3 linked regions of the Homo sapiens genome follow. The protein of the gene in region 2 interacts with the protein of the main gene of each other region in a biochemical or structural test. Each region holds a gene or a part of one and is shown on either strand. Other genes may lie near its edges.

What was found. Proteins that work in one complex are often made in the same cells at the same time.
Region 1: the proteins of ZEB2 (region 2) and USP16 form a complex in vitro, tested with the Homo sapiens proteins (one study listed by BioGRID).
Region 3: the proteins of ZEB2 (region 2) and DGKG form a complex in vitro, tested with the Homo sapiens proteins (one study listed by BioGRID).

Annotation. Positions count from the first base shown.
Region 1 is NC_000021.9:29,034,236-29,042,411, forward strand, and holds part of USP16 (ubiquitin carboxyl-terminal hydrolase 16), read left to right. Parts: intron 1-601; coding exon 602-705; intron 706-2,035; coding exon 2,036-2,139; intron 2,140-3,040; coding exon 3,041-3,228; intron 3,229-4,099; coding exon 4,100-4,195; intron 4,196-4,790; coding exon 4,791-4,921; intron 4,922-5,245; coding exon 5,246-5,333; intron 5,334-6,373; coding exon 6,374-6,452; intron 6,453-7,777; coding exon 7,778-7,869; intron 7,870-8,176. UniProt on the Homo sapiens protein: Specifically deubiquitinates 'Lys-120' of histone H2A (H2AK119Ub), a specific tag for epigenetic transcriptional repression, thereby acting as a coactivator.
Region 2 is NC_000002.12:144,425,604-144,433,779, reverse strand, and holds part of ZEB2 (zinc finger E-box-binding homeobox 2), read left to right. Parts: intron 1-3,753; coding exon 3,754-4,011; intron 4,012-8,176. UniProt on the Homo sapiens protein: Transcriptional inhibitor that binds to DNA sequence 5'-CACCT-3' in different promoters. Represses transcription of E-cadherin. Represses expression of MEOX2.
Region 3 is NC_000003.12:186,246,491-186,254,666, reverse strand, and holds part of DGKG (diacylglycerol kinase gamma), read left to right. Parts: intron 1-1,484; coding exon 1,485-1,574; intron 1,575-2,747; coding exon 2,748-2,908; intron 2,909-8,176. UniProt on the Homo sapiens protein: Diacylglycerol kinase that converts diacylglycerol/DAG into phosphatidic acid/phosphatidate/PA and regulates the respective levels of these two bioactive lipids.

The DNA.
Region 1 (8,176 bases), on a different chromosome or scaffold from region 2:
TGCATTAGTGTGGTTTAATCTGGGCTGGAAAGTTGGACAAGAAGAGTACTTTGAGTGCATGGTTTTCTTTTTTTTTTTTTTTTTATTTTGAGATGGAGTTTTTGCTCTTGTTGCCCAGGCTAGAGTGCAGGCCCAGACGTGATCTTGGCTCACTGCAACCTCCGCCTCCTGAGTTCAAGCAGTTCTCCTGCCTCAGCCTCCTAATTAGCTGGGATTACAGATGTGCGCCACCACACCCGGCTAATTTTTGTATTTTTAGTAGAGATGGGGTTTCACCATGTTGGTCAGGCTGGTCTCGAACTCCTGACCTCAGGTGATCCCACCCCTGGCCTCAGCCTCCCAAAGTGCTGGGATTACAGGTGTGAGCCACCGCGCCTAGCGAGTGCATGGTTTTCTAAATACTTGTTGACTTAAATGTTCTCAGTTGCCTGTGCATATGTAAGTTTTAACAAAATATTGATTCTAGAGTCTAACATTTTCTTTTCAAGATTGTAAGAATGGCAGAATTTCATGAGCCACTTCCTTGTTTATGATAGATTATGCATTCTCCCCTCTTGCTGAGTTTTTATGGCTTTGAGGTTTATGATTATGATTTTTTTAGGGCTGTGGCAGAAATTCTCAGGAGCAGCATGCCTTGAAGCACTATCTGACGCCAAGATCTGAACCTCACTGTCTGGTTCTTAGTTTGGACAACTGGAGTGTATGGTGAGTTTCAGTTCCTCTGCCTCTTGGGTGGAAATTATTTGAAATATTAGAGAATGGAAATGTTTAAATATGTTTAAGAAGAAAGCAATTTAAAATTTTTGTAGTATGTTTTAAAATACCATCACTTTCACAAAGCTAAAGAATGCAGTATTATGAGAAGCTTTTACTTGGACGTTTGCACAAGCACAAACATTGTAACATAGAAGACTTAAGAATCTTTACCCCTTTGTTTTTCTTGCTTGTGATATTATAAGGCATATAGTGGAGATAGGGACGCTAAGAACAAATTTCAGATAAAATTGTAATAAAATTTTGGCTATGAATTTGCATGAAAATAAATGTCAGTCTGGTATGTTATAGATGCTGCATTGTAACATCATTAAAACAGATTTTTACGTCTTAAAAATCATTTTCACAGTAGTCTTCACTGAATGACATCTTTTTTTTTTTTTTGAGACGGAATCTTTCTGTCGCCCAGGCTGGAGTGCAGTGGTGTGATCTCGGCTCACCACAACCTCCGCCTCCCAGGTTCAAGCAATTCTCCTGCCTCAGCCTCCCGAGTAGCTGAGATTACAGGGATGCACCACCACGCCCGGCTAATTTTTGTATTTTTAGTAGAGACGGGGTTTCACCATGTTGGTCAGGCTGGTCTCAAACTCCTGACCTCGTGATCCCCTTGTGATCCGCATGCCTCAGCCTCCCAAAGTGCTGGGATTACAGGCATGAGCCACCGTGCCTGGCTTGAATGGCATCTTTCAATTGTAAAAGTTGTTACTTTTGTCTGGCTAACACGTTGAAACCCCATCTCTACTAAAAATACAAAAAAAAAGTAGCTGGGCATGGTGGTGGGTGCCTGTAGTCCCAGCTACTCGGGAGGCTGAGGTAGGAGAATGGCATGAACCAGGGAGCTGGAGGTTGCAGTGAGCCGAGATCCTGCCACTGCACGCAGCCTGGGCAACAGAGCGAGACTCCGTCTCAAAAAAAACCAAAAAACAAAACAAACAAAAAAAAGTTGTTATTTTTGTTAGTGTTATTCTGTATTTTAAAATATATGTAAACAATCTTTTGACTTCAATGTTATAACCAGTAAAGTAAAACGTTTGGAGTATTTCATCATACTACTTATATGCAGCCATAATTCTGGCTAATTTTATTAATAATAAACCAGAGTTAATATGCATAGTCTTCTTCAGGAAAACAGAATTTTTACGTTCGGTTTCTTTAATAGAATAAGTTGGCAGTTACACACTTTGATTCCAGGAATTATTATTTGTCTCCCCCTTTTTAGTTGTCATTTTGTCATTTTTCATCTCTGATTTTTGGGTCACAGGTGTTACGTATGTGATAATGAGGTCCAGTATTGTAGTTCAAACCAGTTGGGTCAAGTGGTTGATTATGTCAGAAAACAAGCCAGCATTACAACTCCAAAGCCAGGTAAAATAATTTGTTTCTTTAATATACACCAAATGTCGATTTGTGTATCTGCTGATACTTAGATTTGTTATACTACCTAGCATTACATACAGCTGAGTAACATTAGTTATGGTTGATTGCAAACTATGAAACTATTTTTGGTTTAACTATAAGGTATTAGAAGGGATATGAGAAATGATCTAGTCAGATGTGATGAAGGCCATAGACTAAGGTAATGGCCATTAATGCTAAGACTAAGGTAATTCCCATAACCCTAGCCAGGCTTACTATAGACCTGCCTTACACTGTTCTTACTGTCGTACATTTTGTAATAGCAAGATTTCAGTCTGTCTGCTGGGATAACATAAAGCATTTGTGATTCCTTCTAATGGTCAGATATTTCTTAGGTTCTTTCCATGCATAATTAAATTAATTGGCTGACATACAGCATTTGCTTTAAGCATGTTTTTTAAGTTTTTATTGTCACAAGTATCTTTGTCAGAGCCAGAATTATTTGTTTTTTACTTTAGGATTGATTTTTGACCCACAGAATTCATTAAAAAATTTATTTCATGTCCATGTTCTTGATTGTTTTATATTCTTAATTTCACAAGGTAAGATGTGTTCATTTGTAAAGAATTTTCGTGCAGTAAAAAAGGGAGATTTATACCAAAGCACATACTGTTTGGTTTCATTTATCAAACTAATGCTTACTTTAGGTCTGAGTATTTTTTGTTTACTGGGTTTTGTGTTTTTTTTCTGGATGGCAATTTACCTGTATCTATTTAAAATCAAATGGGTGGGTGGGTTGGAAAGAATGACTTCAGGTAAACTCACAAACTCTAGTACTGTTTCCCAAGTATACTTCTGCATTCGATATGACTGTATTACACATTTTGCTAAATCTTTTCTTTTTTTAAAGCAGAGAAAGATAATGGAAATATTGAACTTGAAAATAAAAAATTAGAAAAAGAGAGTAAGAATGAACAAGAGAGAGAAAAGAAGGAAAACATGGCTAAAGAGAATCCTCCCATGAATTCTCCTTGCCAAATAACCGTGAAAGGACTCAGTAATTTGGGAAACACATGTTTCTTCAATGCAGTTATGCAGGTACATTGTCATTTTTTTCCCTTTAAAAAAGCTGTCCTTTTCCTCATAGAATCTGCTACTTACATTATTGAGTTTTTTCCACCTGAGTAATTTATTTCTATGTATCCAAAGAAAACTTTTTTTTTTTTTTTTTTTTTTTTTGAGACAGGGTCTCACTCTGTCACTCGGCTGGAGTGCAGTGGCACGATCGTGGCTCACTGCAGCCTCTACCTCTTGGGCTCAAGCAGTCCTCCTACCTTAGCCTCCAGAGTAGCTGGGACTACAGGCATGCGCCACCACTCCCAGCTAGTTTTTGTATCTTTTGTAGAGACAGGGTTTCGCCATGTTGCCTAGGCTAGTCTTGAACTCCTGGGCTTAAGCCGTCCACCCCCTTTGGCCACCCAAAGTGTTTGGATTACAGGCGTGAGCCACCATGCCTGGCCAAAGAAAACTTAAGGAAAGTTTTATTGCATGACAGTAAGAGAGTTTGGTGAGCACTCGGGTGCAGTGGGTTTGAAAGAAATATTGCTGCTTCTTTCATGGAGCTTGCACTTGGGTGGAGGAAACACAGGATAACCTCATATAGAAGCAAATACGTACCTACAGGTAGTGGTAAGTGGTTGTGAGAGAGTCATGGTGGAGGATTGGGGATAGCTACTTCTGATTGGGTGGTGGGAGAATGCCCCACTGAGGTGATGAATAAGCTCAGAACTGAAGTAGTTATGACCCAAATAGAGTAGGGAGAGAAGCATCTGTAACTTTTCATTTTCCAAGTATAGAGTTTTCAGTGTTGGTCATGATTTTCTGTTTTGATAGAATAGACACTTAAGAAGTGTCAGAGTTGATTTGCCTTTAAATAATTTTTCTCTTTTTTTTTCACCCTACATTCTAGAACTTGTCACAAACACCAGTGCTTAGAGAACTACTAAAAGAAGTGAAAATGTCTGGAACAATTGTAAAAATTGAACCACCTGATTTGGCATTAACAGTATGTTCTTTAAACTTTTCTAGTCTGTAACTTTCCTCTCTGAATGTGTGTTTTCTAAATTATTTTAAATAACTGACACTCATTTCCACTGTTTTTGTTTGTTTTGTTTTACTTTAGGCTACTAACTTAAACAGTTTCAGGCTAATAGAAGTTATAAGGAGGCATTACATCTGTTTGCTGTGTGTGTGCTCTGTTTTTCTATGCTCGAGTGTTAAGCTTCCTTCTTGGGAATGTGTATATGTTTGAGAAGCCTTAGGCTTACATTATTATTTTTAACATCTTTAAGGTGACTTAAGAGCTGTGTAACCAAATAAATATTACCTTATCCATTTTTATTATTTACATTTTGCTTTGGCTCTTTCAATTCTTAGGTAGTAAGTGTTCCAGATAATCTAAAACTAAAATAGTAGAGCTGAATTCTGCATAAGACAGTCTGTGACCAAACAGTTTCTATCTCTTTTGATGTACATTTTAAACTTTTAAATGGGGCAGTTCTGTCAGGAACATTGGTAGTATATGTTAACTAATTAGATTTTAGTAAAGTCAGTGATTCCAGAATTTGACTGAAGAAAGTAATTTCTTTTCCCATATTCAGGAACCATTAGAAATAAACCTTGAGCCTCCAGGCCCTCTTACTTTAGCCATGAGCCAGTTTCTTAATGAGATGCAAGAGACCAAAAAGGGGGTTGTGACACCGAAAGAACTCTTTTCTCAGGTCTGTAAAAAGTGAGTATCCACTTCGATTGTGCTTTCAGTGCCTCAGTGAGATGCTGAGAAATAATATTAATATTAAATAGTAAAATATAAAAATATTAATAGCATTACATTTAGTCAACCCTCTATATACAAAAGGCATAGTTTTTTTTCATTTGGATTTTAAAATATATTTTATGTGATAGTTAAATCTCCCAAGGGTGTTAATGGACTAAACGGAAATTTGTAGAAACCAGAACTCTCTGAGATTTGGGATATGATCCTAAGATTTTCTAAAAATAGCTTCAGAGCTTAGTAGACTGAAGATTGCTTTTCTGTCTTTTTGTTTTTCTCTAGAGCAGTGCGGTTTAAAGGCTATCAGCAGCAAGACAGCCAGGAGCTGCTTCGCTACTTATTGGATGGGATGAGAGCAGAAGAACACCAAGTTAGCATGTTATGACCATTGTATTTTATGATCTTATCTTCATAAGCTTTCTGTCTCATTTGATATCTTACGAGTTAAAACAATGAAAGCTAGTTATTAAGGCCATCATACTTTAAAATTTTTTCTTACACCAGCTTTTTCAACTAGTATGTTTTCACCATTAGAATGAATCCAGAGAATTAGCAGTAATTCTCTTTCTCATGATGGCTTAAGTTTAGTTGATGTTTACAGCATTAATGTTCTTTAAAGATTCTGTTGTACTAACCTATACGAAGAGAGCTGCCAAATATTGGAAATTGTTTCTCCCAAACCCAGGTGCAGCACACCCTTACTTTTAATTCTGAGTCTGATTTAATACTGTTTTTTGAACCTAGGAAGTATTTTCATTTTGTAAGAGTCAGGGAACATTGGTTGCATTTTAAAATTTTTGTTACTTGCCAGGATATAAAAAAATGTATTTGGGGTATGAATTAATGAGTACTAATAATAGTGATAATAACTAATATTTATTTCGCACTTATTTTTATGCCAATCACTGTTTTCAGTGTTTTGTATTAATTCCCTTACTTCGTTCTCACAAAGTTTCTGTGAGGTGGATACTGTGATTTTTTCCTATTCCATAGATTGAGAATCTAGGCTGTAGAGAAGTTCAGTACCTAGTTTAAGGTCCCCCAGAAATAATGGAGCTGGGCTTTAAGCACTGGAGTCAGACCCTGTGGCTGTCATGTAATCATTGTGCTTGTAGGACAAGCTATTTCAGTTTCTTCTCAAAGGTGGTGGGCATGTTCTGAAAACCTTTGGCTTGAAGAGGTTTAAGATCTTGAAATGATAAGATAATACCTTTATTCAATGGTTAGTGATTGCTTTGTGACATAATTCCTTTTTAGCTCCTTGAATTAAGTTTGAAAATGTGATTTTGGAATTATTTAGTAAATATGGGGAGCTGTATCCTGATCACTTTCTTGACTTGATTACATATTTCTAAGGAAAATAAAATTTAAAATTTAATAGTATATATATATCCATTTTATTACTTTTAGAGAGTGAGTAAAGGAATACTTAAAGCATTTGGTAATTCTACTGAAAAGTTGGATGAAGAACTAAAAAATAAAGTTAAAGGTAATGTCTGACTTTTTGAACTAAAACACTATAGTTGAATTCCTCTGTACCTTAGGACAAGATTGCTGGCACATATATTTCCAAGTCCACAATTATTAATGTATAATTTCTCTTTATCAACGTTGATTAGTAAAAATTATTCAGTGCTCCAGAAGTGAACAGTTTTACCCCATGGTGTATTCTTTTTATGTATTAAAGATAGAACTATGATGAATTACAGTTTTACTTTTCAAAAGCTTAAAATTATAATTAGCAGTAATACATGAATTATATTTGTTACTGTGAGTTGTCAGTAGTTGGTTTATTAATCATGGAGCCAACTTAGTTCTTATTATGTGGCGTGTAAAGATTTAGGGCAGATCTGCCCAGTAGAACTTCCTATGTTGATGGAACTCCTCTATACCTTTGCTGTTCCATATAGAAGCAACTAGGCACGTGTGGCGCCTGAAATGTGACTGGTGAAACTGAGGAACTACATTTTTATTTTTATTTAATTGTAATTAAATTTAAATAGCCGTAAGTGACTAAGGGCACTGTATTATAAAGCACAGATTTGAATCAACTCATAGCAACTCTTTGCCTCCTTGGTGCCCTTTAGAGCCTGGCCAGTAATGGAGAGAATTACCCCTGCTGGCATTTTCTGTCAGAAAAGTGTGGTTCTGCATAAATTATCATTTGAATAATGCTTATAGGTTTCACGTATTTGGAAAATTGGCTGATCAAGTAGTAAAATTATGGCTTTTAGTTATATTAAACTTATCAAGATTATTTCTGGGAGCATAGGAAAATAAAAGGAAGATTTTGTTTGAAATATTTTCCTGAGGTTTTTCTTTTGTTTTTAAAATATCAAAGGAGTTCAGTCTTAGAGTTCACAAAACAAGTTACATGCATTTTCTCTCCCAGTTTGCTACTCTGGTATCTTTTATCAGTCTTGAATGTTAGAATGTTAGAGCTAGAACTAAGGAACTAGGCTGTCATTCAGCCTACTCTGAGCTGTTCATTTTATACTAATGGAGAGAGAGAGAAAGACATAGAAGTCTCACTGACTTGCACAGTTTACTTCCCACTGACTAGATCTTGGATAAGGACTTTTTTGTCTTATTCATAAAAGGCGATTGTGTTCAATTATGTTATGCTCAGAGGTGGAATATATAATACTGACTTCTATTGCTTAAAAAAGGTGATTATGAATGGAGGAAGAAGTCTGTGGGACAGGAAATTTAAAATAAAATTTTAGAGTTAGATAGGTAAGTAGTTTTAGCTTTTCTTGTTTAATTAATTATATAACGGTAATTGGTAATTGATAGACTTTTTTTTCTCCATAGATTATGAGAAGAAAAAATCAATGCCAAGTTTTGTTGACCGCATCTTTGGTGGTGAACTAACTAGTATGATCATGTGTGATCAATGCAGAACTGTAAGTAGATGTCATGTATACTGGGTTTATTTGCTAATATTCAACAGTTTATCAATTGTTTATTTCAAAAGCAGAAATCTCTACCTTCATAGGATATCTTTTTAAACTATTCAGATGCTATTCAGATGTGCATGGTTCTTTGTGGGAAATGTCAGCACTCCTTAAATCTTGAAGACGTTAAACAGTTTGATTTATTTCCCCCAACCCAAAGTCCTCAATGTTGTGTAATTTTTCATTTCAAATTTTCTTAAGCCTTTGTTTATTTTAAAACCCATCCCCTACTCCCCATCCCACAGGGCAGGGAGGA
Region 2 (8,176 bases):
TGTTTTGCATATGACTGTAAAATTAATTGGCATAGTGATATAATTTAGAGTATTGTTTACTTGGAAGGAAGAGTAGAGAGGATTTAATATAATGTAATCTGGTGAAGTGAAAATAATGCTTATTATAGATAAACTATAAAGCCTTTTAAATATAGGCTTTTAGTAATGCATATGCAGATATATCTTTCCAGGCCCATTTGCTATAAAGCAAATTTAAGTATCAGCTTTATGCCCTTTGGTAACCCCATATTATACATACAGTTTTAGAGAAAATGAAACTTTAATATGATTCCACATAAAATGGTGAGCCATGCCAGTAATTCTTATGCCCTTCATATGCAAATAGTTTTATCTTATCCATCAATTATCATGTAAACATAGTATCACATGGCAAATTTCCCTGTAATACAGTACAGTACCTGTATATAATTATAGGTGCATTTTGCCAATGCAACTGTTACACAGAATTGTAATTAATTCCTCTGAAGACTACTGTGAGAGTTTTGGATACTGATGCTGTTTTTGGACATTTATTACTGCTCTTTAGTTGGCTTTTTGCTATGCCTCAGAGACAGATGTAAAATTAGTGTCTATTTTGAGCCAGCAAACAGTACATCTTTCCTCTTGTTTATTGAATTGCAGAAAGGAATTCTTTGGGCTCCCACTTCTTTGTGGTTTTGAAGTAACTGTCTGTTTTTGTGCCAGCCATGTAGCTCCAATACATGTCTAAAATTTTGCTGAGACTCATGCAAAGGGTGGCTTATTTGACCTGTAAGGACTGAATAGAACTTTGCTACGTTATATGGGAACTTCCAGGCTTTTAAATGCTGAATAAAAAGATATATATCATAAGTTCAAAAACAGACACTGGCCTAATATATTCTGCCCAATGAACCTCATTTAAAACCAGTATACGTTGGTTATTATACAAAATTGAATCTCTTCTTTGCAGAGACAAAGCTACATTATTAAGATCTCTTCTGCCAGTGGTGATGATGGTGGGCAAACATCAAAACAGGTCCAAATGGGAAAATGAGCTTATTTTTATTTCATAATGTAAGTGCGGCTAAACCCATCAAGTATTGGCCATTCTAGAGTAAGAATATTTTATGGTGAAAATTTCCACAGTACTTGTACTAGGCAAATCCACTGACTAGACGTGAGGGAACATTTTAAAGGAAAATCCTGGGATTTAGAAGTCGGGGCATGGGGTAGGGATCAGGAAGTGCAAAGTCCATCTCAGTGCATTTAATTTTGATTGTCAGATGGTCAACCAGAAAGAGCAGAATGAGATTGTCTCATTTGAATTCAGATATAAAAACTATGTTATGAATTGTTGTACCTGGATTTAAAAAGGGGTTGGGAGAGTGGCACACCAGCATAATGGCATATGGAAATGCATATCCTAGTTAACACAGCGCTAGAAAAGATGGCATACTGCCTCTGTAAGTGAATTTGACAGCAGTTATTTATTTAGTTTAAAAGTATTTACTACTATTTGTGAGCACAAACCCTAAAGGTTGTGAAGTATTGTTGTCCTGTGAAGGTGATGGATGCTGTACTCCTGACCCTATATGGTGAGACATGACTTCATTGCTTGTTTAGATTGTTCTGATATTTGGGACTCCTCAAGGGCTGTTCATAAATCATTTATCTCTCTTTTTTTTCCACAAGAAAATATTTCAATTGTATTGCTGCAGGAACACTCACGTGTCACACGGGATATTGTGGTCCATGCAGAAAAAGACCTTAAAAGGCATGGGTTTTTTTTTTTTTTTTTCCAGGATAAAGGCCTTTTAATGCCTGTCCAGCCTTAGATAATTTTATTCACTCCTTCTGGACCTTTCTTTATTCCTCCTGTGCCCAGAGATCAGTTTTTAGGAGGTGGGTTGAAAGCTTCCCAGGCCTTAGGAGCTTTTGTTGTAGCCCCCCCATTCCCACTCCCCCCTACCCCCAGCATTCTGAAAATTTGTAAAGAATCTTCTGCTTGTTGCTAAGAAATAGTTAAATCTCAGTCACCAGGAAAAAAAAAAAGAAGCACATTATTGATTGTACTAAGGTATATCTGGACCACACAGCTAGAGCAGAGATGTTAGAATATCTCTCTTTTTGTAGATCTGAGGGCATTACCCAGCCTGAACTTGCCTAAGCCCTTGTGGTCACACCTCTTGAAAAGGTTTTGTTTCCCCCGTCAATTGGTATTCAAACCAGGTCAGCAGATTCTGTTTGCCCGGCTCCGCTGCCGTTTTCATTTTAATTTGCACCTGTTGTGCAGTTGTTCGGAAGGCAAGTGCAGACCCGCGGATTATACAAAGATCATATTATGAGCAGATATGCACGGTGTAATCTTTTTGTCCCCAGCTTCACATGACAAAAAAAAAAAATCTCTCTCTTTTTGTTCCTTTTTTACTCCCTGGGAACCTGTCAAAGCAAACAGATATGACTGACTAAAATTTGTAACTAGACATGTTTCCAGAATTCTCCAAAAGCATTATGAACCTGACACACAATCCTTTTCATTTTTTTCCTCCTTTTCTGCCACTTTTGTATAATCCGATAGCTGGCAAGAGCCACTTGAGATAGCTCAGTTGATAACTTAGCGGAGGATTGCTTTATTAGGCGCAGAGAAATCAAAATGAACCTGAAAATTGTTTGCGCTTTTTTTTTCCACAGCCTTTTTTCCCCCTTTCTCTCTCCCTCTTGTTCCCATGATGTCATGGTTCTAACTTGTTTTTTTGTGTGTGTTTCTGGAGAGTTGGGTTAACAGTTCTTGGCAATCCTGTGTGTGCGTAACGGCTGGTGTGTTTCTCTAGCTGAGCTAATGCCCCGTGTTTATTACTCTAATCTTTCTTGTCTGGTGGTAAAGTGGACAATTTATGTACTAGCATGTAGGCCGAGAGCCTGTGAGGGCTGACTAATTCAGAAACAGCCACCTTCAATTGAGTTCACAGACCTTATTTACAGGCTGTCTATTTTAAGAAAAGCTACTGAGCATTGCTGGGACTGAGGGCTGCAAAAGCAGCCCGCCGGTTCTTGTGAGTTATTTTAACATTTGTGTTGGTCTTGCCTGTGTCACTTTGAAATCTTCTGTAATTATGACACTATGAAGACATCTCAATAGTAGTATTAATGGCCCAGAAGATATGGCTTTTCCTCATTTTCTGCTTAAAAGATTAGGATATAAATGGCCTTAGCACATGACGGTTGACATAGAAGAAAGAGTGAAAATTCAGATGGAGCAGGTTTGTGTATGTGTTTGTGTATTTGGGTAAATAGATGGACGTGTGTGTGTGTGTCTACTGTTTCTAGGGAAAAAACCACAGTTAATATAGTGAAGTCATCTCGTATTTATAGTACAACATTATATAGTAAATACTTCATGTCTCTAAGCTAATAAAATTGTCTATTGTAGATCTATTTTATAAGTTTTTGTGGAGTATCGAAAGTACATATTGCAATACGTCTCTTTACATATGCAGTATAGGCATAGTTTGTGTGTCTATGTTTCTGTTGCTTTTTAGAATTTCCCATCATTTTTAGGAAAAAATTGTTTAAAATCAGAAAGAGCACCCAGCTATAATTGAAAAAGAATAAAAATGCTAAAACCTGAAGGATATTAATTATATTTTCCTGACATGGTTGAGTAATTCAGTTATGAAAATATTAATTATTTTCCATTTAACTAAACAATTAGGGGTGGCTGATGTTTCTCAACAGAGTGTTTAGAGAGTGTGTTTTGTGCTTCTTCTGCAGTGGTGAACTATGACAATGTAGTGGACACAGGTTCTGAAACAGATGAGGAAGACAAGCTTCATATTGCTGAGGATGACGGTATTGCCAACCCTCTGGACCAGGAGACGAGTCCAGCTAGTGTGCCCAACCATGAGTCCTCCCCACACGTGAGCCAAGCTCTGTTGCCAAGAGAGGAAGAGGAAGATGAAATAAGGGAGGGTGGAGTGGAACACCCCTGGCACAACAACGAGATTCTACAAGCCTCTGTAGATGGTCCAGGTAAGTGTCTAAAATCACTTGGCCTCTTCCTGTACCATCTTCACATCTTCAACTAATCTGTTCCACCTAGCAGATCGCCCACAACCAAATAATTAAAATATTTCTTTCCATTGAGCCCTTGCAGAATAGAGATACCAAAGCTGGTGACAGATTATGAAGTGATAGTAATGTTATCACATTGCGGCAGTTACATCTTAGGAAGGGATTATATTTCAGTTTTGATGCAAGTCAAACATGAACCACACTTTCAACACATAACATGAGGTATTTGCACCACATTTACAATGTGCAAATTATGTAACATGATCAAGATCTATACTTTCATGATAGGAAATGGAAGCAAATGTAAAAACTCACAACATATATATGTATATAAAAATATTTTGTGTGGAAATTATGTAGCATTTCAAACCAAATAACTGTCAGTTTAATGTAGCTTCAGTGTCTGTCTGACACCTCCTATTGGAATTCAATCGTTTAATGATTCCCTTTTGTTAAGTGTGAATGTGATTTCACACTTTTACCTGGTCAGGTAGCTTTCTTATTATTTATCAGCTAAGTACTTGATAATGATTCCTGCTGTTTGGTGGGACTCTCAAGGGAAGTAAAAATGGTCCCAGGCCAACTATAATAAAACTAAGGTAAATTATATTCAAACTAAAACTTCCGACAACACTGTGCAAACGGGAAATGTCTTGGTCTAAAATTCACTTATGACGGAGAATCGCTAAGGTATGAAATGTTTAACAAAATACAAGAAATCTTATTCCTGTGAACTTTCTCTGCTCATCTTTACATGGTAAAGTGGCCTGGAAAATTTGTTTAAATGACCTCTCTAATTCAGACCTCATGTCACCTTCATCTCTATTCCCAGGACCCACTGAGAGTTATCATTGTTTACCCCACCTTGTTTTTTCTTTGACAACATAAGCAACAAAAGCATTTTTATAAATAGGTGAAGTGGCTGGGAAGGAGTCTACCTATATGCTGTTGTGATGTCGCAGACTATAAACCATCAAACATAGGCAGAATAATTGTTTGGTATACTGGAAGGAGGATAATAAAAGCACTTCCACTACGAAAGAAAATTAAATGTGAGATGAAAGAAAAAGAAAAAAGACTGATGGCAATTTGAGTACAGTGTATTTGTTTTTCGTTTTCCTAACATACTGTGCCAAGTTTTCTACTCTTTCCGTTTCCAATTTTGCTTTCGGTGAAGGTTTCTCGAATCTCAGCAATCCCACACATAAACATTTATCGTTATATCCATTAAGCCTTAAGGTTTTAGATTTTCAACTATGAGGGAGAACTCAGCCAAAGATGCTTGAAAGATAAATACGTTTAATTAGGGGCAGAGGATGATCATTAAAGGAAGTCTGACTGCTGCAGAAGTCATTAACAATCTTAAATGAAATTTTTATTTTTATGATAGCCATTTACATGTATAATAAGAGCCAATGATTCTTGGGAGCAGTGTGACAGAAACAGAGTGTGGCGAGAACTCATGTAAGACATACTATTTAAATGAGCTGGTGTTAGCTATTCATATTTGTTAATGAACTAGATATGCAGGGCTATAAGAATGAATGTTCTGATGCTTTAAATTTTAATATCTAGAAATCAAGGGTAAGGACCAATTACTAGAATTTCCACCCTTAGAAGAATAATTAATAACAATGTAACAAATGTACAGCCCCAAACCTCTTTTAAAAAAGTTTAATTTAAAAAATTTAATATCAATAGTTGAAAAACAGCCAAACAGCAATGTCAAGCTGTAGTAGTTTGTGATTGTGGCAGCTTTTTGTGTTGGTCATGGATCATAATTCTAAACGTTTTAATATACAGTAATCCATATGAATGCATTGCAGACCCTGTTATCACCTGTAGTTAATGGTGCCTGTGATACAAGTGAACAGGCTGTTCTTTGCTCTTACCTTTATGGTAAATAAACCAGCATTCTGGAGTCACAATAATTAAATAAAATGTAAATCCCTAATCTCATTTGGCTATTTGGACCAAGAAACTTACCCGGCTATTACCTGTCTAGTTCTAATGATTACTAATGATTTATTGTTCTTTTTTTTTATTGTTCTAAAAGTGCTCTGATGTGGTGCCTTGATGTCTAATGAAAAGAAATTGGTCTTAAAAAGCTACTCATTGTTTATCCTGACTCTGAGATAACACATTTTTCTTCTGATAAAATATTTTTCTTATTTATTGTTCAAAACACACAATATAGACAATAACTCTAATTCTGGTGCAGTTTTATTTAGTAGTGTTTTATCCCCGGTGCCTGGCTGTCTACAGTCATACCTCAGCACATAGCTTTACTCTGAGATAAGCCCTCTCTCCTTTGCTCTTTCTCCCATGCTTTCTGGAGTTTGTCTGCAGGATGCAGGTTTTGAACTGAAGAGCGCAGTGGAGTTCTTACTGTGCCTTTCCGGTTCCAGCACAATCAAAGTTTTGTGTTTGGAATTGTCCTTGACATTCTTTCGTCCCACAATGGGGTGGACACAGTGTGCTGGAAACCATGACATCATTATCATTGACACAGACTTAAATAAATCACCTGCATCTTGGCCTCTTTCTGCTTATTCAAGGATTCTTCATCTTAAGGAAGAAAGTGCTCTTTATTTTTACAAATCTTCATCCCAGGGGTGACTGGAAGACGCAAACTTTTACAAGTGTTTTAAAAATAAATATACTATGTGGTTTTAGACACAGTATGCTGAGTCAGAGGTGTCTTAGAGAATGTTTAAGGTTAGACATAAGGCAGAAAGACAGCCAGATTGCCTTTAATTCGGAGGCAATATTCCTAAACTGTGTATCATTATGTCCTTCTGAATATGGATTCACTTGAAACTTAATTAAATAGGCATATACATAACATTTCAAATACATACCTGAAAAGGCTTAGTAGTGTTTCATTTTCACACATTGAGCTTGATATTCAAAAAAGAAAAAGATTGATGCTCAGTGAATCAAAGCAAAGTACTTTCTAGGTAAAAGTGACACCATCTCATCCAATGTCTCTGAAAGATCTCAGTTGCACAGTCTTTGGATAAAAAGGGTTATAACTAAATAATACTACAAAATGCAATTTACACAATGTGCTGACTACACATTTGTATACCCAGCATTTATTAATTTGGGAAGCAACCAACTACTGTAACTTCTCTTTACTTTTTCATAAGAAAATGACAATGAGGAAGGAAGTGCAGCAGAAATCTTGAACATTACCACTATTATGCAAAAAAAAAAAAAATGCTGTTAACTGTTTTCCCCTCAGTGACTTGATGTGCTCTCAGATGGAAAACTTATGATTCTTGTGACTCTTGGCTACCCGAAATCACATGAGATGAGCAAGGAAGAAAGACACAAAAGCTATATTTATATCTAGCCCTGAACTTCTCAGAAATACCTTAATATGATTCCTTGCAGAGACTGATAAAAATATCAGATGAGGGAGACTTTCAAATGATCAATGATTACAATTGACAATACAATATTGCTATATATTAAACTTCTAAATGTTTAATGTAAAATGTCTCTCTGAAAATATTTTTTAAATAAAGGAAAATTCCTTGCTCAGGAATGAATTTAAGTGGTTGTACAGCTTAAACAAATATCATTCAAATTATCTGATTATTATGAGGAGTGAGATTAAATTAGCATCCAGGTATATCTGTGTATTTTACCTTAAGAGGATCATGATTTTTCAGTTCTGATTCCATAAAGAGATTTGCTGCACTGCTTGTAAAATATATTTTATTTTATTTTTGCTGTAACATTTTCTAGAACCTGTTCTTTCATGAAAGTAGATTAGAATATGATAAGCAAAGAATGACCAGGACAGATTTGGAAATTCGTAGAGTCCTAGTTACAAAGTTTCCCTTGTTTTAAGTAAAATGATTATCACAGAGAGATATTCATCCTGGAGCATATTTGGTCTCATTAGTATTGTCATAGTAAAAATAAAAATTTTTAAACTTCACGTTTAATTTACTTAAGAGATTTTTAACTATCAGCTATCCTGCTCTGTCCTCCTACGTCCTCTACAATCTGGTAGGCAGAAAATTTGAGAGTGCCCCTATTTTTCAAATTCTCCCTTATTTTAAAATATTGCAGTTTTTGACAATGACCTTTAATTGTTTATGAATTTTTA
Region 3 (8,176 bases), on a different chromosome or scaffold from region 2:
ATAGAGAGAAGAGATTGCTTGGAGATCTAGTAAGGAGACAACACATAGAATGTGATATGTGAATGGATGTGTGAGGGAAAAGGAAAAACCTAGGGCGGCATACAGCTTTCTAGCCTAAACACCATAACAACAGTTGACCTGCCGAGGTGGGGACACAGAAGAAGGGGCAGACACAGGAAACAAGAGCCTTCTAGGCAAAGGGAGCAGGCTGTGCAAAGGCAGGGAGGCAGTGCTCTGAACACATGTTCTGAGGACAACGAGAGGGGCCATTGCATTGTTTTGCTCTCTATCTCAAGCCTTCCAGTGGCCATCTCAGTCCTGGGTCTTGCCTGCGCTCAGCCATTTCTGATATAGGTCAGACAACCTGGAGGACCTATGAGCTCCCAGTTTGCCAGGACAACCCTAGCTTGAGCCTTCCCTGCTGATTCCTGCATCTCTCCTCACGCCGCAATCACATTGCTCACATCCAGGGGCACCATGCGTGCTGAGGTCTCATGGAAATACCCACCCACCCCCAAGACTGATGGATGCCTGTGCCCTCTTCAGCTCTCCCAGCCTAGACAATATGCCACGGTAGATCTGAGGCCAGATGAAAACATGTTCTATTGTGCTTTCTCTGATGGTTCTGTCTGATGTCCTTCACAACTGTCAGAAGAGGAATAATTAGGAATCTGTGTCATTGCAATTCTGAGAGGTGGTGGAAGTGACAAACTGGTTGTGGGGGCCAAATAACACCTGGAGGTTTTGTTCATTTAGCTAATGTTAGTTTTTAAACTTTTAAACTCGAGTGGTGAACAGTTGAAGGTGAGCATCTTCAGCTTGTCCAATGTCCCACTATTCCCTAGTGTCCTAGCCCCACCTGTTTTACTAATCTGTATACCTGCCTGGCCCCTGAAGAGAGGAGGGGAATGGACTTGGAGCCATAGAGATCTGGGTTTGAATCCTGGCTCTGGAATTACTTTCCCTGTCTGCCATTCAAGTATTGACCAGGCCTAGCTGCTGCAGTCAGATGAGATTGAGCGTGTTCAGGGTAGAATGGTTGTAGACTACTTTCCCTCTGTCAATCTCAGTTTCTTCAGCTACTTGAAGGAGGATAATCCCTTACAAAGTTAGGCTGAGGAATAAATGGAGTAAGTGCTGATTATCATTAAGGATTAAAAACATGCAACTTAATGTTTTGGGGTGTATGCTGCCACCCCAAAGGACAGATTTAGGATGAAATTTGAATAAACATATGCAAGTTGCAGGGATACAGATTTAGCTCAATATAAAATACAAATGGACAGATTTAACTCAATTAGTGGTGGTTAACACGCTGCAGATGGGATAGATGGCTTTAGGAAGTAGTGTGTTTCCCATCAGGGTGGTATTCAAACAAAGAATGCTATGGAGGGGTTCAAGCATCAGATCAGGGATAAAAAGACAACTCAAACATTCTACAGTCCCATGGCATATGGTTCTCTGTTCCTCTGTGTGTCTTGCAGATAAGGCCAACTTTGCAAAGCATCCACCAGTGGCTGTCCTGCCTCTTGGAACAGGAAATGACCTTGCCCGTTGTCTCCGCTGGGGAGGAGGTGAGTTTGCATGCTAATGGTGGTACCCTGGGAACAGGTGTTCCTGTTTACAGAGATGCTCTACAGAGCTAGGCTGAACTTACCCTTTTATGGATCACATTCCGCAGCATAATACTCAACTCTGCAGTCATGTCAAGTCCATGACCCTTTCTCTGCCCTCCATCCCATGCTGAATCTAGAATAGAAGCCCCTCTTCTGGGCTCTGGGAGCTTTTTCTCCCTCAGCCCCGAGTTTACTATCATCCTGAAACCATCAACTTAGAGCCTGCTTTCCCCAGTAGAAAGCAATCAACTGTAGGGTAAAGACAAAGTCTCATATGTCCCATCCCCAGAGTCCCATCCAAGAAGGTGCTCACTTAGATGTTTTCTGTGTGAAATTCCCTCTCCCACAAATGGCTGATCTTCTGAATTAGGACTAAAACTGAGGACCAAAATGCTACATCTCCAGTTACTTACCGTCACTAGAAGCATTCAGATCATCCTAAGCCCCATAGCCATGGGCCCTCATTTTGAAATTTCCCTAAGAGGAAACACAGAGTGGTAACCAGTGTATAAGACAAGGGGCAGAGAACTTTGCAAACTGCAGTAGCCCCCATGGCGTTGGACATGCGCCAGAAAATGGAGAAGTTCAGCTCAACACATGGAGCAGACAGATCAGGCTGCCGGCCAGAAAAGGGGTGGGGACTCCAGATGGCTGCTAATTCAGAGAATGAGTCAAGACCAGGCAGTGCAATGGTCAGTGTTCAATGATCAGCTATGCTTGGTGGGCAGTGTCAAAGCAAGCAGGACCTAGGCCTAGCGGCCATCTTAAAATTCTGCCTGCCACACTGTCCATCTCCCACATGACACAGCCCAGAAGGATCTGCTGTTCTCCCATGCAGAGACTCCCAGCCATCCAGCCCACCGCTTCTCCAGGGTTTGCTTCGCTTCAGCTACACAGGCCTGTGACCTTTAGCTAGCACCCACTCCCTCCCCTGCCCCCAGCCTCTGATTACTTTCAGTTATCCTGCCCTTCTCTGTGGCTCGGGGAACGTAAGTGTCTCTAGCCCACAGACACAGTGGGGAGTCCCATAGTCACAGATGCCCTGGGCTTACCTGCCCTGACAACTACCTGTGCATTAGCAAGAATACAGCCTTTCTGCTGTGGTGGCAAATGCAGTGCTGTCCTCCACAGGTTATGAAGGGGGCAGCTTGACAAAAATCCTGAAAGACATTGAGCAGAGCCCCTTGGTGATGCTGGACCGCTGGCATCTGGAAGTCATCCCCAGAGAGGAAGTGGAAAACGGGGACCAGGTCCCATACAGCATCATGAACAACTATTTCTCCATTGGTGTGGTGAGTTGGTCAAAGATCACCTTTCTGTATGGAAGGGAAACGCCCAGGAAGGGTTCCAGCCTTCTGTTGTCCCCTCTGGGTCCCTAGTGTCTACCTGTCTTACCTGCCCCCCCAGCCCTGAGTTGGGTCCAAGCATTCTGAAACTTGGCCTGAGTGTGGACACCCTGATTGCACCCCCGCTTTATTCCCCATCTCTTGCTTAGGGAGTAAATTCTCTCCTCTGTCATTTTAACTAACACAGGAAAAGACAGAAAAATTTTCAAAAGACATATTTTCTCCTTCTGCAATTTGTAGCAGTCGTAGAAAAGCAACACCAAGAAATAACCGGGGGACAAGGTTGGTAGGAAACTCTCACATGAGCTTCAGGAACTGGGAATTCTGATCTTCAAAGGAAGACCATGTGGTCCCAAGTTGCCCTGGCTGGCTTAGCCCTCAGATTTCCTTCTCTCCTATTCTCTCTTCTCTCAACCCCATTCCACTCACTCCATGGGCATCATAAACCTCTAGGGGAGTCTCCTCCCAGCTGACCCCTTAGGCTGAATGCTGTGAGCCTCCTTGATGCTCCCACAGCCCTTATGCTCACCCCATTCATGCACACTCTGCATTAGGTTGAAGGAATTGGTTTAATGTGCTTATCTGGTGCCCCCCACTGCCATGCACACACACACACTCCCTCAGTGCAAGGACAGCACTCTGTTCCTTTTTCACCCACTAGCCCCAGCACATCTAGTGTAGCTCAGCTTCTGGTCCAAAGAGGATTGGAGTGGGCACTGCTTCCCAGGCTGCTGTGAACAGGATCGGAACAGGAGGGGACAGATCAATCATTTCTATAAATGAAGCTGGGGGTTGGGAGGGGGTGGGAGTGCAACAAAGACACTAGTATTTACTTTTTTTAAGAATGACAGAATTGGTCAGGCACGGTAGCTCACGCCTGCAATCCCAGCACTTTGGGAGGCTGAGGCGGGCAGATTGCCTGAGGCCAGGAGTTCGAGACCAGCCTGGCCAACATGGTGAAACCCCATCTCTACTAAAAATATAAAAATTAGCCGAGCGTGGTGGTGGGTGCCTGTAATCCCAGCTACTCGGGAGGCTGAGGCAGGAGAATTGCTTGAACCTGGGAGGAAGAGGTTGCAATGAGCCGAGATCACGCCATTGCACTCCAACCTGGACAACAGAGCGAGACTCTGTCTCAAAAAAAAAAGAATGACAGAATTATTGAACTATTTGTTCTTTTTTTCAACAAATATTTATCAAATTTTTTCCCTAAACTTTTATTTTAAGTTCAGGGGTACATGTGCAGGATGTGCAGGTCTGTTATGTGGGTAAGTGTGTGCCATGGTGAGTTGCTGCACACATCATCCCTTCACCTAGGTACTAAGCCCGGCATCCATTAGCTGTTTCTTCCTGATGCTCTCCCTCCCCCAACATCCCCACAGGCCCCAGTGTGTGTTGGTTTCCCCCTCGTGTCCATGTGTTCTCATCGTTCAGCTCCCACTTGTAAGTGAGAACAGCCACTAGCATTTATTGAGTACCTGTGTGCTCTCCACAGTGCTAGACTGTACATATTCCAGCCCTCACAGTAGTCCTGCAGGTATCATTATCCTGCTCATCTCACTCTACAGATGAGGCTTCGAGACCCTTGACTCGCATGGTGGTGCCTTGTTCTGGAGCCAGGTTCTCTCCTCTCTGTTCCCTTGTCTTTGGAGTTGTGCTGCCCAGTTTCACATGCATATGAAACCCTCCAGACGAATCCTCTGCCCCAGACTCTGTGATACCTGCACTCCTCAACCATCCTCAGCTGTGTTTCTTTTGAAATTTTGGTATTTTAATTTTTTTTAAAGGAAAGAGAAGGAGAAATGATAGGTGGCTTGAGGGGATAGCAAGTTTAAGTAAAGGGTGTTGTTTTGTTTTGTTTTGTTTTGTTTTTGAGACGAGTCTCACTCTGTCACTTAGGCTGGAGTGCAATGGCATTATCTCAGCTCACTGAAACCTCCGCTTCCCAGGTTCAAGCGATTCTCCTGCCTCAGAAGTTGGGGTTACAAGCGTGCAATACCACATCCAGCTAATTTTTGTATTTTTAGTAGAGATGGAGTTTCACCACATTGGCCAGGCTGGTCTCAAACTCCTGACCTCAAACGATCCACCTGCCTCAGCCTCCCAAAGTGCTGGGATTACCGGCGTGAGCCACCATGCCCAGCCTAGGTTTTATTTTTTTAATAAGAAGGCTAAATAGAGAACCATGGGAGAAGAAAGGACTAAAAATAATAATACCTTATATTTACAGAAGGATTTAAAATTTACCAAATTCACAGATATATTCTGAAGGGCATTATTATCTCTATTTTATGAATAAGAAAACAGAGACTCAGATTAAGGGATTTGCCTTTATTCTCTGACTCCTAATCCGGTGCTCTTTTTCTATTACTAAAGCAGAAGAGGGAAGCATTGCTGGGCCCATGATCGGGTTCTGAGAGGGTGGAGGTGGTAGACTGGGAGCAAGTTTAGGGGTTCCTATGTCCCAATCTGATTCATCCCACTGGATCCCCGGCCTCAGCTGAGGGGAATGTTTCCCTAGACCTCTTCCAGGTGCCCCCTCCAGTGACCCACGCAGATGCCCTCCCTCCTCTTCGTGCTCAAAGGCCCCTCTCCTTTTTGGACCGGCTGTTCAGGCTCCGCTTCCCCCAGCAGGAACATGTGCAGCCTTCAGCTCCTGCAAATTAGACATGACTGACAGGTCCGGGGTTCTGGAGCGTGGGCTTCCCATCATTACAGTTAAAAAAAACTCATATGTCTTTTTCCTATAGTAACCAGAACATAACTTGCTAACATTTATTGAGTACCTACTGCACACCAGACATAGTTTCCCTGCCAGTGGAGGCAGGCATTATCCATTTGTGTTTTGTAAGAAGGAACCATAGCTTAGAGAGGTACAGAAACAAGTTCAGGCTGGTGAGTGGCAGAGCTTGGAATCATAATATTTGAACTCTAGAGCCAACTGAGCTGTGGACCACTGAGCTTTGTGCCTCCTTGAAGCCCCCTCCGTCTTCATGTTGCCAAATGTAACATGGTTTGAAAGAGGGGAATCTCAAAATTTAGTTGTGGTGGCTCACCACCACCTCTTATCAGAAATGTAAATTCCACCCCCACAACAGATGCTGATTCATATTCCAACTCAGTAGGTCTGGGTAAGGTCTGGGAACTGGCATTTTTAACAAGACCCTGAGATCATTCTGATGCAGATGGTCCTGACCAAGTTCTCAGGGAGTGAAGACAACCTACTAGAGCAGAGAAGAATGGTCAAAGGAAGTGGCTCTTCGCTGGCATGGAAGCCGGAACTGAAATAAATGGAGAGGGAAGCAAGGAAGGAGGGGAGAACTAGCCCTCTAAGCAACGGGCTGGAAGCCAGAGCTGAGGAGCAAGACTGGCAGAGCTGCCTGGGAACTTCTAGACAGCAGGTTACAGCGCAGCTGCCTGCAGAAGCTTCAGCCCCACCTCTTCCCTTTCTAACACACCCAGCTCTGGCTGACAAAAACATGGTTCCCCACACCTCCCTGTCTCAACACAGTGCCCTGTATAAGATGGCCCTCCTTAGTATCTGCTGACCAAATGGATGAACACACAAAGAGGAATGGACAGCCTTCCCTCAACTAAATAGCCAGGCCCTAAACCCAAGAGCCAAGACTATTCAGTAATCATAGTTTTAATTTATTCTAGCAAAAAAAGTAGGAAAAAAGGAAGGAAGGGAGGGAGGAAGGAAGGAAGGAAGGGAGGAAGGAAGGAAAGAAGGAAGGAAGGAAGTCCTGCTGGCTGGCTAATTAATTGTCCCCAAGGAAACACATATAAACAGATTCTCCATCACTCTCAGTGGTCAAGATAATTTACCTACCTTGGGCTGACTTATAATAATCCAATCTATTCATCTTTCCAATTATGAACAACTTCACAATATCTTTCTTGTAATTTTTTTCATACACCTTTAGCTTATCCATGTTTAATATTATGTTGCAGAAGAATGAGAAACCAGGGCTGTTCTCATCTCATTGGTGTGCCCTTGGCTTTCTCTCAATAAAATGTTTGCAGGGTTTGTATGCTCGCTCTTTAAAAGTTGAAAAGAGAAATTCTTGAGAAAACAAGTAACCAACACGCAACCCTAACAGAGTCTGGGGCTGACATTTGCAGAAGGTCTTGCTCCCTATTTGACTTCCCAAACTTTGTAAGAGAAGTAGGTATGTAAACCGAGGAAGTTTTACTTCCTTATGATGATCAAATAGAGGCGGACTCCACTGGCAAAGAGAGCCCTGCCAAGGTCTTTGCCTCTTTTGAAGGACCTAGAATATCTTATGATAGCAAACATCTGTTGCTTTGTATTTATAAAGATGATGACAATGACCTCTGAGACAGTGCCCTTGGGTGCTGTGGGTAGAATTTTCTCTGATGAGTTTACTGAGACCCCTTGATGCCAACAGAACCCATTTAATAGCTGAGGGAATAAATAAGGCAGGGTCTCCTGGCCTCTCCAGGGAGTGACTGTGCCCTCATTGCTACGACAGCCCCATCCACACATCAGTTTCTCACCAGTGAGAAGCTAAGATCGTTGGCCTTATCAGTCCTTCTAACTGATAATATCTACTGGCAGGAGATTTTAAACACAGTCATTCAGGATGCCACTTCCTCTGACTTCTCTGGCCTGCTCCTCCCTGTTCTTTATTTTTAGATTAGCAGAAAATGTCAGGATGGCCAGGTATCAGTGACAGGAAGTTTGGGACTACAAAATAATTCCCAAGGTATGTGTAACTCTGAACTCCTCACAAGCTCTGCTTTCATGAGCCTTAACAGGACGGGTGAACAGCTAATCCCTTGATTCAGTGAAATCTATTTCTGATGCTAGGGGAGCCCAAGGGCCAAGGAGAGGCCACAGTGGTTGCACTGACCCACGCACCGTTTTCCACCTTGCAGATCGTTCCTAGCTATCACCAGACAAGCTTCCCACCATGATAAGCGTCCTACACATAGGGAATTTCTCAACAAGACATAATTTTTCCTGCAGATTCTTGGATTCTGCTGGCACCAGGTTATTTGTCACCTGTGAGAGCCATGAAGATACTAATACAGTGGGACTCCCCAGAGGGACGTGGACAAGGGTCTATACCCTTTTCCATTCCCCAATCTCCCATAATTTTCAGAACAACCCCAATTTCAAATAATCTGTCTTATGGTCTCCTTTCCATCTTTTTATCTCCGTAAATTGCCAAAGTGACTTAGACCTGT